Linked DNA regions of Homo sapiens. The protein of the gene in region 2 interacts with the protein of the main gene of each other region in a pairwise test. Each region holds a gene or a part of one and is shown on either strand. Other genes may lie near its edges. The genes, in order: PPARGC1B, ZNF212 and ZZZ3.

What was found.
Region 1: the proteins of ZNF212 (region 2) and PPARGC1B interact in a two-hybrid assay, tested with the Homo sapiens proteins (one large-scale study listed by BioGRID and IntAct).
Region 3: the proteins of ZNF212 (region 2) and ZZZ3 interact in a two-hybrid assay, tested with the Homo sapiens proteins (one large-scale study listed by BioGRID and IntAct).

Annotation. Positions count from the first base shown.
Region 1 is NC_000005.10:149,827,711-149,831,362, reverse strand, and holds part of PPARGC1B (peroxisome proliferator-activated receptor gamma coactivator 1-beta), read right to left. Parts: intron 597-3,652; coding exon 480-596; intron 1-479. UniProt on the Homo sapiens protein: Plays a role of stimulator of transcription factors and nuclear receptors activities. Activates transcriptional activity of estrogen receptor alpha, nuclear respiratory factor 1 (NRF1) and glucocorticoid receptor in the presence of glucocorticoids.
Region 2 is NC_000007.14:149,252,879-149,256,258, reverse strand, and holds the end of ZNF212 (zinc finger protein 212), read right to left. Parts: intron 2,701-3,380; coding exon 1,844-2,700; 3' UTR 653-1,843; downstream 1-652.
Region 3 is NC_000001.11:77,634,135-77,637,786, reverse strand, and holds part of ZZZ3 (ZZ-type zinc finger-containing protein 3), read left to right. Parts: intron 1-3,652.

The DNA.
Region 1 (3,652 bases), on a different chromosome or scaffold from region 2:
TTACGCCTCTTCTTGTTAGGCTTGGAAGATGGGGCTCAAGGAGGAAAAGGGATGTTCTTTGACCCTGGATGTCTATGGCAGAGCTTTAAACCCTCCAATGGGCTCCCTGAGGGGGGAAAAAAAATCCAAACTATTTACTGTGGCCTCCACAACCAGCGCAATCTTGCATTTTGGTCTGTCACACTGTTGGAATACAGTCCTCTGAAGCCTGGCCACACTTTCCTCATCCTTGCTCTAAGCTGCATTAACATCTACCAGTGTCTGGAACACTAAAGTGTGAGAAAGTCCAGGGCTCCTTCCAGAAAACCCTAAACTAGGCTGGATCTCCAGAAGCAGTGCCCAGGACACCAGCTACAAGGGCTGTGGGAGGAGTGGGAAGAGATATTGGAGGTTGACTGAACTCGCTATCCTCCACCAGAGCTGAAGGCTGCAGCCCCAACAGACACCTGGGGTAGATTTGGGGGCATGTGAAGAAATACCTTAACACAAGGCCGTTGACTTTTAGATCTGAGGCCTGCCTGGCGCCAGGCGGTCCCTTCCTTCTGGGTGTCAGAGCTTGATGTTGGGTAGGATGTGGCCAGGAGGAGCTTCTGCAGCTGAGGGAAAAGCAGAGAGGACAGGAGCCGGGGCTGAGCCACAGCCAGAGGACATGGACTGCATGGCCAGCCCCTCAGGACTGACCTTGGGCATCACAGGACCACAGGGAGAACACAGGGTGGGCATTCCATGACCTGGGATGATGATCCCAAGATACTAGGTGCAGATGGTAGATTGTCTAACAATCCCGAACACACGTAAGTATGCTAATAACATACAAATCCTTTTCAGAGTTAATAACCCCAGGGAATAGCTATGACTTAGAAAAACTCAAGCAGGTCTTGGGTAACGTCTGTCTATTCTACTGTTAAAATATTATGATACAGTTTTATTGGGACATTCTGAGTGCACACACACACACACATACACACAATCTGGAAGGTTAGGTACCAAAATGATTCTCTGGTATGGGATTCTAGCTGATTTCCCCTTTGTTCTTTCTGTTTATTCATATTACCTCTAAAAATTAATTTCTTAAATTAAGCAAGGTAATACTTGTAAATGATTAAAAAAAAAAAAGAAGACACATCACAAATACTAAAGGGCAGACAATTAAAAGCAAGTCTCTCTCTTGCTCAAAGTCCCCTTCTGCCTCCTAGAGGCAACTCCACTAACTACTTTTCGGTGAACCTATCATGAGGTGGGCTTTCATTATGCAAGTATATGTATGTAGTCATTACCTCCAACCCACCCTGTTTTTTTTTTTTTTTCTTTTTTTTTTTTTTTTTTTTTTTTGAGATGCAGTCTCTGTCACCTAGGCTGGAGTGCAGTGGCAGGATCTCGGCTCACTGCAACCTCCACCTCACGGGTTCAAGCGATTCTCCTGCCTCAGCCTCCCAAGTAGCTGGGATTACAGGCGTCTGCCACCACACCCAGCTAATTTTTGTATTTTCGTAGAGATGGGGTTTTACCATGTTGGCCAGGCTGGTCTCAAACTCCTGACCTTAAGCGATCTGCCCGCCTCGGCCTCCCAAAGTGCTGAGATTATAGGCGTAAGCCACTGTGCCTGGCCCTACCCTGTTGTTTTTACACAAGTGGAAGACTACACTTAAGCTTGTTTGGCTTTTTTTTTTTTTTCTATAAAAACTGTAAAAGCTCTTCTGCTTCTGCACCCTGAGGGCAGGTACAGAGTGTACCTGAGCTGAGAGAGCAGGAAGTTGAATACATCTAGATTTTCCGCCGGAGATCCTAGCCAAGCTTGATAACAAACTGAGAAAGATCATGAGATTTTAGTACAGCACGGAGAGTTTCCCTGGGGAACATGCCACCCCAAGTCACTCCAACAAGGAATGCCAAAGGCCAGGAGCCAGAGAAAAGGCCACTCCACACTCTTGAGGAGCCACAGGATCCTGGCTACCCCACCTAAACCCCAAACCAGCACCCACATGTTTGTGACTTTTTCGATGGGAAATGATCCTAGGACTGGGGGAAAGAGACCTCATTCTAGCCTGGCTCAGGCCCGGTGCACTGTGAGAGCCTTGATTCCTCCATTGGTGTAATGAGCAGGGGCAGAGAGACTACATGGCTGGATTAAAACCTCTTTTTTTGACTCTAAGAATATGACAGAAGTTGCTGACCTCAGAAAATCACACAGACACACAGAGGTCCACAGGTCCTTACAAGTCCATCGCTGGACTCTCTGGGATCCATGGCCCAACCTGAGGTCCAGATGACTTCTCAGGGCCTTTTTGTTTGTTTGCTTTTTGTCTTTTAAAGAGATGGGGTCTTGCTCTGTCACCCAGGCTTGAATGCAGTATCATGATCCTAGCTCACTGAGGCCTCACACTCCTGGCTTTAGAAAATCCTCCTACCCCAGCCTCCAGAGTAGCTGGGACTACAGGCACGTGCCACCATACCGGGCTAATTTAAAAAAAAAAAAAAATCATAGAGATGGATCTTCCTATGTTGCCCAGGCTGGTCTCAAACTCCTGGCTTCAAGGGATCCTCCCACTCAGCCTCCCAAAGTGTTGGGATTACAGGTATAAGCCACTGTGCCCGGTCCCTCAGGGCCCTTCCAGATCTCTGTCGGTATGCAGGGAGTCTAGACAGCAAGTCTGTTTCCTGTGTGCCTTGCACAATGGCTGAAACAGAGGCACTCAATAAGCATGTAGGGAATGAAGGTAATCTAAGGCATGGGAGGGAAACAACCTTTGACCAGCAGGGGTCGCGCTTTGCCTCTTTAAGCTTTGGTTCTTCTCCAAAGGCCCCGTGAAGAAATGGCACTAGAATGCTTGTTACCACTAATGGTTGTACCAGAAGTATTAGTTCACATTTACTGAGCAACTCTATGTGCCAGGCACTGTTCTAAGTGCTTTATGTGTATTATCTGCTGTAATCCTCCTAATAGCCTTTGACATAGGCACTATTATTAACCCCTCTTTATAGATCAGGAAGCCGAGGCTTAGAGAGGTTCAGGATGTATGCCTAAGGGACATACAAGTACTAAATGGCAGGGCTGGGATTCAAACCTAGGTGCTTCGATTCCAGTCTGAAATGAAGCAGGACCCCCTCTCGGCAGGAGCCATAATGTGGGACTGAACATATTCTGTGCCTGGCATGGTGGGTGCTTCACGCTGCTTTGGGGAACTTGAAGGCAGTGGGAAGGAAGGGAAAGGGTCCTAGACTAGGAGTGAATACCTGAGTTCTAGTCTTTGCTGGCACACTGACTTGCTGTGTGACTACTGGAGATACCCTCCCCACTCTGGGCCACAGTTTTTCCAGAGCTGGGCTTGAGGGTCACCAAGGGCCTTTCCAGCTCAAACTCTCCATAACCTAAGAACCCTCCCGGCTCCAACAGGCTCTGATTTTCTAGCTGAGTCCTGCCAGCCTCCAGGAGCCACAGCACCAAGGGAGGGGCCCAAGACAGGCTGAGCAAAGCTAGACTTCACACTCCAGGACAGCTCAGCTATGGGTGCTCTCAGCCCGGATTGAGAGCGACTGCTTCCAGTAACTTCTGAGTTCCAGACTCCTTTGAAAATCTGATAAAATCTGATGTTCTCCCTAGAAAGCTGCTATTCCATGTGCACATTTCCACATTCCGCACACGCTCACACCG
Region 2 (3,380 bases):
TGAGAATCTAACGCCTGATGATCTGAGGTGGAACAGTTTCATTCCAAAACCATCCCGTCCCCCACCACTGTCTGTGGAAAACCTGTCTTCCACGAAACCAGTCCTGGTGCCAAAAAGGTTGGGGACCCCTGCCTTACAGCAAGCCAAGTTTCCTTCTACTTATTTGCTCGCTCTCCCCGTGGAAAACTGTAATGTCTTTTAACGGGTCTCCTTTGGTCCCAAGTGTTCTTACAAAATGTTTTGTGTACATGCATTTTTAATTTATATAAATGGTGTTACATTATAGATCTCAATTTCTTACCTTTTCCCCTCGGCATTGTGTTTAAGATGGATCCAGATGGCTACGCATATATCTAAGCCAATGCTCGTAACAGCTACCTGGCACTCCCTGGGGTACCCACATTTCACCTACTCTTTCTACCTCCCAATAGCCATCACCCAGACTGTCTCCAGCTCTCCACCATCATAAGTACAGTCCCCTGAAAATTTTCACCCATGCCACATCTTGTCTTCTGTCCTAGGTTTAAGTAAAAGTGCAGGTTAGGCTGTGCCATCAGTCCTTCCCTGTCATCACTCCAGGTCAGGTGCCTCTCCTCCACCTTGGCCCCAGGAGAGTGTTCTTGACAAACGGAGAAAAACATCCAGTATGAACTTTTTTTTTTTCTTTTGCTAGTAGCAAGTTTTATTCTAAGCAACCGCAAATCATCCAAGGGGATGTTCACATATGACCCCAGAGCCCACTCCCATCCCCCCAGACAGCAGCGGGGCACACATTCAACACTCCTGAGACAAGCCATCTGTGTGCTTTTTCTGTACCCTCTCTGGAATAGGCAATCCCAGAATGCATTTGGAAACTGTAATCCGAACCACCTCAAGTAAGGATTGGTGTAATAGGAACAAACTCAAATAACCACTGGTACAAGGTGAACAACCTTAAGTAACAAAGTAGTTTTCTACTCTGGGAGGCTGCAGAACATAGCCAGGAGGAGGTGGGAAGAGGAGAGGGGTATGCCGAGACACCGCAAGTCCCAGACCACAGCCATACCATCAGCAACTTCACTGGAATCTTTCTTCTCAACAGGGCTGCAGGGTCTACCCCTCCGACTCTTTTCCTCTTGGTCCTTTTGAGACAATTTGAGAGCACCAGGCACTGCACGAGGGAACCTAGCACCGTGTCCCCTGCTCTCCGGCCTAAGTAAGCATCAGTGGGCTAAAAGAGCCCCATTAACAACTCCCTCCTAGAGGGTAGGTCCAGTCCCCAAGTTAGGAACAACTTCTACAACTCTTAAAATGTAAAAAACAAGTGTTGGGCTGTATTCTTTAAAAAATCAACTAAAATCTAATTCCAAAAAAGGTTCTTCAGAGCAGGGCTAAGCAGTTCATTTAAATTATTTCTTCTACTTATTATTAAACAAAGAGATTATAAAACAAGAAAAAATGGAGGGTTATACTTCCCAGAACTCTTCCAGGCAGCTGCTCACCCCTATGGCCCGACTCAACCCCGTGGGAAGACATGAAATGCCGGGACGAGCCCTGGAACCAGCCACCAGTCCCTGTGGGGTCAGAACGCCAACCCCAGCCCACAAGCATTGGCATGAATGAGAAAACCAGAGACCTGAAGGTGCCAAGAAACAGCAAACTTGGCAGCAGGATGAAGACCTGGCCTGGACTCTTCTTCCACAGGGTTTTCAGGACAGCCTTTGGGCTTGGCTTGGTACTGGGACAAGGGAAGGCAATCACAAACAACTGCCCTCAGGAAGAACTCAGTCCCTGACTGCAGTGTCTCTTCGGGGGAACCAATGCCACCCCCCTCCATCCCCCAGACGGGCGAGGGGCTGCACCCTTAAAGCAGGCCATTGGGCCTTCCGGGCTCCAGGGCCAGCCCACCCCGCTCCCGCTGGTGGATCTTCTGGTGCTGCAGGAGGTGCTGCTTCTGGACAAAGCTCTTCTCACACTCAGTGCAGCTGTAGGGCCGCTCACCCGTGTGGATGCGCTGGTGCCGCACCAAGTCAGATGGGTGACTGAAGCTCTTGCCACAGTAACCACAGATGAGGGAACTCCGGCTTTTCCTCCAAGGGATGTGGCCAGGCAGGGCAACCAGGCTGTTGGGTGAGAACCTCTCTTGGACATGCTGGCCGGCACTGGGCCCCTCCTGCAGGTGGCAACGCTGATGGGTCACCAGGCTCACCTTGCAGCTGAAGCTCCTCAGGCACACATCACACTGATGCAGCTTGGCCTTTTTGGTCTGTGGTTTCAGCCGTGGCCTGGGCCTAAGGCTCTCCTCTGGCTCCTCAGGTGTACAAGACCCCCACCCAGAGTGGCTGCGCAGATGTGTGGCCAGCTGCTGCTTATAGCGGAAGGTGATCTCACACTCAGAACATTCGTAGGGGCGGGAAGTGTCCTTTTTCAGCTTCAGGCCCTGCCCACATTCCTGGTCCAGCTGTACCTGCCTATGAGATTTCTGCTTCGGGCAGCCCACAGTTCTGCTGCTGCTAGGAACTCTACTACCAACAGGCTCCTCTAGAGTAGAGTCCCCAGGACCTGTTTCCAAGAGGACAGAACTGCCCTGACCACCCCAGAGTTCGGTCTGCTCTGGGCTCAGGAAAGCCTGCTCTTCAGCAATGCATGAGAACTCTCCAGGAAGATCCGCAGGGCCTTCCTGTGTATACTGTAGCTCCTGTTTGATCATGACCCCACCTGCTGCAAAGTGGAAGAAGACCAACAAAAAAGATCACATTCTAGTACCTTTGGTTTCTTCAGGACCAAACAAACATCTGTGAATTTCAGAAGCACCCCAGGAATAAGTGAATTAGGATAACGTGGAGGAGGATGACACTGGCTAGGTTCCAAGACTTCTATAAAACTATATTCATGTACAGTTTTTCCAATGTTGATTGGAAATATAAATGTATTACTCTTATAAAACAATACTGTAAATGATAGTTCTCCAAGCTTGTCTACAAATTTATATTTAATCCCTGTGAAAAATGACAGAATACACTGTAACAACTATACTCAATTAAGAGTGTTAAAATAACAAATTTGAATGATTAAAGACAAACTAAACCTACAGCTTAAGAATTCATGTCCAGCTCTGTTCTTCCTCCATAACCTCCCAAATTACCTACTGACAAGTGCTTTTCCTGCACTGCCTTCCCTCCTGAAGCTCTGACATACCTACGCTCAATCTCCAGCAGGTTTTGACTACCGCCTCGTACGGTACTCTATTCTGTAGGGCATGAAGAATAATGATTGATGTGGCCGTTAGTCTTAAAGACCCCACAGGGTGGTAGGAGTTGAGGCATATGTAACAGCTGAACTAACGACAATCATAAAGGAGTCCAGAACAAGCAGATGCCAGATGAGGTCACCAAGTCAGC
Region 3 (3,652 bases), on a different chromosome or scaffold from region 2:
AAACATTTTGCAATGCAGCTAAAATGAGGAAAACAACTGCTTTAGTCTATAATATTTTGCTAAGCTTGGCAAAACAATGTTGAGACTTGGTTGAGATAATACAGACTTTTTATTTTTTATTTTCTAACAGAAAGGGTCTCACTATTGTCCAGGCAGTTCTCAAACTCCTGGGCTCAAGTGATCCTCTTGCCTCAGCCTCCTGAGTATCTGTGACTGTAGGTGCCCCCACTTCCCTGCCCCTGCACCTGGCTAATCTAGACATTTTTGGTCCCTTTTTATTAACTGAATTTTGCACTCAGTTTATTAGATAATTATAGAAAGTGTGTACCTTTATATATGCCTATCCAAAATAGAAAAGATATGAAGAAAAAGGTTAGAACAGAAAAAAATGATCAGAGGGAAGATTAGCAAAATTTTGTTTAACTCTGATCTTAATAATTTTAACCAGTTTATTACCTCAAGTGCACATCACATGTTAATTTCAGGTAAGATTTTTTATAGTCTTCCATTTGGTGCTTCCTTGGTCTTATTTATAAATTTTTTTATTATTAGGATCCAGTAAGAAATTAAAGGGTATTTTATAAATAGTTCTAATTTAGTTTGAAACTTGATGACTATTATCTTATTAGAATTCTGTCTGGGTTCACTAGCCTAAGGCAGTGCTTCTCAAACCCTAATACATACATGAATCACCTAGGAGCCTAATTCGTTGGTAGGTCTGGGGCGGAGCCTCGTATTCTGCATTTCTAACAAGCTTCCAGGAGATGCCCGTGATTGAGCTGCAAGAGCCTGAGGTACCACAAGGATCCTTGTTATAAAACAAGTTCTCTTTCAATACAGCCCAATAGCACAGAATTTGACAATCCTAGCACTAGGGCTTTGTTCTAGTTATTGAGTGAAATAAAAGCATTTTTAGGGTACAGAAGAAATGGAAAGAACCTTAATCTTTTATATTAATCAGTGTTTTCATATTTTATTTAACTTTTGTATTAATCAGTGTTTTCATATTTTAATCAGTGGAATGGTGAAAAATTAAGATAGGCCTTACTATACGTGATTTTTTTTTTTTTTTTTTTTTTTTCAAGACAGGGCCTTGCTCCCATCACCCAGGCTGAAGGGCAGTCACATCACTACACCCTTGACTTCCCAGGCTCAAGTGATCCTCCCACTCAGCCTCCCTAGTACCTGGGACTACAGGCAGGCTTCACTACACCTGGATAAATTTTTTGTATTTTTAGTAGAGACAGGGTTTCGCCATGTTGCCCAGTTTGGTCTCGAATTCCTGGGCTCAAGTGATCCACCTACCTCGGTTTCCCAAAGTCCTGGGATTACAGGCCTGAGCCACCATGACCAGCTTATAGGTGATATTTTATAGTAAAGAATATATGTATAAAAAAAAGGTTTTTAGTACTACTAATAATAGGTTCATTTCATCCAAAATAGTCTCTCTTTGAGAAGTTTGTACTGCAAGGCAAATTTTGCTCCCATTCAGATTGGTGTGGAAAGAAAAGGTTAAGGAAGTCTTATTATTGGAATAATTTAAGAGGTTTTTATGCCCTTAATTGGGATTGCATTTTAAAAAGTAAAGACTAACAGATTCTTTTGTGTGTTTATAAAGTATTTCTATTGTCAGTATTATTTTTGAACCATAAATTATGAGTATAGTTGAATTTACATTAAAGATAATATGTATTAGATTTTGTAGGCATTTTAGTTATTAAATTTAACTTAGCCTTATGCTTTTTTTGTGCATTTACATACATATTTAATATTTAAAAATAAGTAATCTTAACCCTTTAGAGTGCCAGATTTGGATACATGAAACAAGTAAGTTGCTTTTCATGTATTTCAGTTTGTGTTCTTTTCTTTTTATTTTTTTTTGAGACAGAGTCTCGCTCTGTTGCCCAGGCTAGAGTGCAGTGGCGCGATCTCGGCTCACTGCAACCTTTGCCTCCTGGGTTCAAGCGATTCTCCTGCCTCAGCCTCCCGAGTAGCTGGGATTACAGGCATGTGCCACCATGCCCTACTAGTTTTTGTATTTTTAGTAGAGACGGGGTTTCACCATGTTGGCCAGGCTGGTCACGAACTCCTGACCTCAAGTAATCCGTCTGCCTTGGCCTCCCAAAGTACCGGGATTACAGGCATGAGCCACTGCCCCTGGCCAGTTTGTGTTCTTTTAAAACATCATTTGAAGTTTAACTTAAATGTTTTACAATTAAAAGTGGAAAATTATGGGACACTCAGTGTTTGTTACCCATGAAAGAAACAGATTGTAATCTTCATGATAATATATTAGCAAACGATAATTAAATGTCAGCTGTTCTTTTAATGAATCCCCCAAACAATGAAAGTTTACTACTGTAAGAAATGTGTTTCTAAGTTCTGATTTGTGTCTTGTACTTATTGTTCACTTGGTTGCTATGAAATTCTGTAGAACATATAACCATGCTTTAATTCCAGGGCTAGTTTTGTGATTCTTATAAGATTTAAAAAAATTGTTAATTAAAAATTTAAAAGTATGCCATACTTTGAGACAACACTAAACTCAGGCAACTTAAATATTTTACAGGGTACTTTCTCACTTAATTCACTTGTCAGCAGGCAGGAACAGGGAGATTATTTCCTGTAGTGTTTCTTTTTTATATGTGGTAGCATGTTGCTGTGTCTTCTATAATTCTTCCAAACTTTCCACTGTTAGATAGTTCTAGTTGAAGCAAGGAGAAATTGTGTTTGATTTTTAGGGGTAGGAGTCAGAATGGCATTTGGAGGTTTACATGAGAAGGGAGACTGTTGATGACCAAAGGCAGGAGGAAGGGACTGTGAAACTTTGCACTATTGCCACCACTGGCCTCTTTCTCTAACTAATCATCCTGCATCTCATTCAAAGTTAGGAAATAAAATGACAGGGTACCTTGTGAAAACTAAACAGAAGAGGAGTCGGGGAATAGAGACTTCAAATATTAACAGCTCCTTTATTCTGCTTGATGGGAGAGCCTCTGGAAAATATCACCAAATCACTAGTTTACCCAAATGGATCAATCAAGGCATTTTTCTATATCCCTTACATTTCTGTCATATAAACCTCAAGCATCCACACCAGAATACCTGCTCATCTCCCAAACCACACATTAAAACTGGCACTGGCATATGCTATACACAGGAGTTCAAAGAAGGAAAGGGTGGGATTACAGGAGTAGTCTTGATTTCTTAAATGTAAGTATTTGCTTCAGAGGCTTCTTCCCCATTTTCTTTTCTGGTCTTTGGAACACTCCCTTTCACTTGCTAATTTATGGCTTTATTTCTAGAGACTAGGAAGGCTTGGGTTTGCTTTGTTTTGTTCTTAGCCAATGCAAGCTAGCATTGTGATTTTTGTCTATTTAGTTATGAAAAATTATACTGCAATAAAAAATTTTTGGATGCCAGATTATTATTAAGGGATTTGATCTGAAACTCATTTTAGCAAAAGTAAATTAAAAAGAGGAGAGCCTGCCTTTCTGTATACCGGGAACATTTTGAAAGAACACGAGAAATGATTGGAATAGTTTTTTGAAAGATAGCTGCTATATAAGTTCAAGATTATTATTTTATTTATTTTATTTATTTATTTATTTATTTTTTTGAGACAGTCTCACTCTGTCGCCCAAGCTGGAGT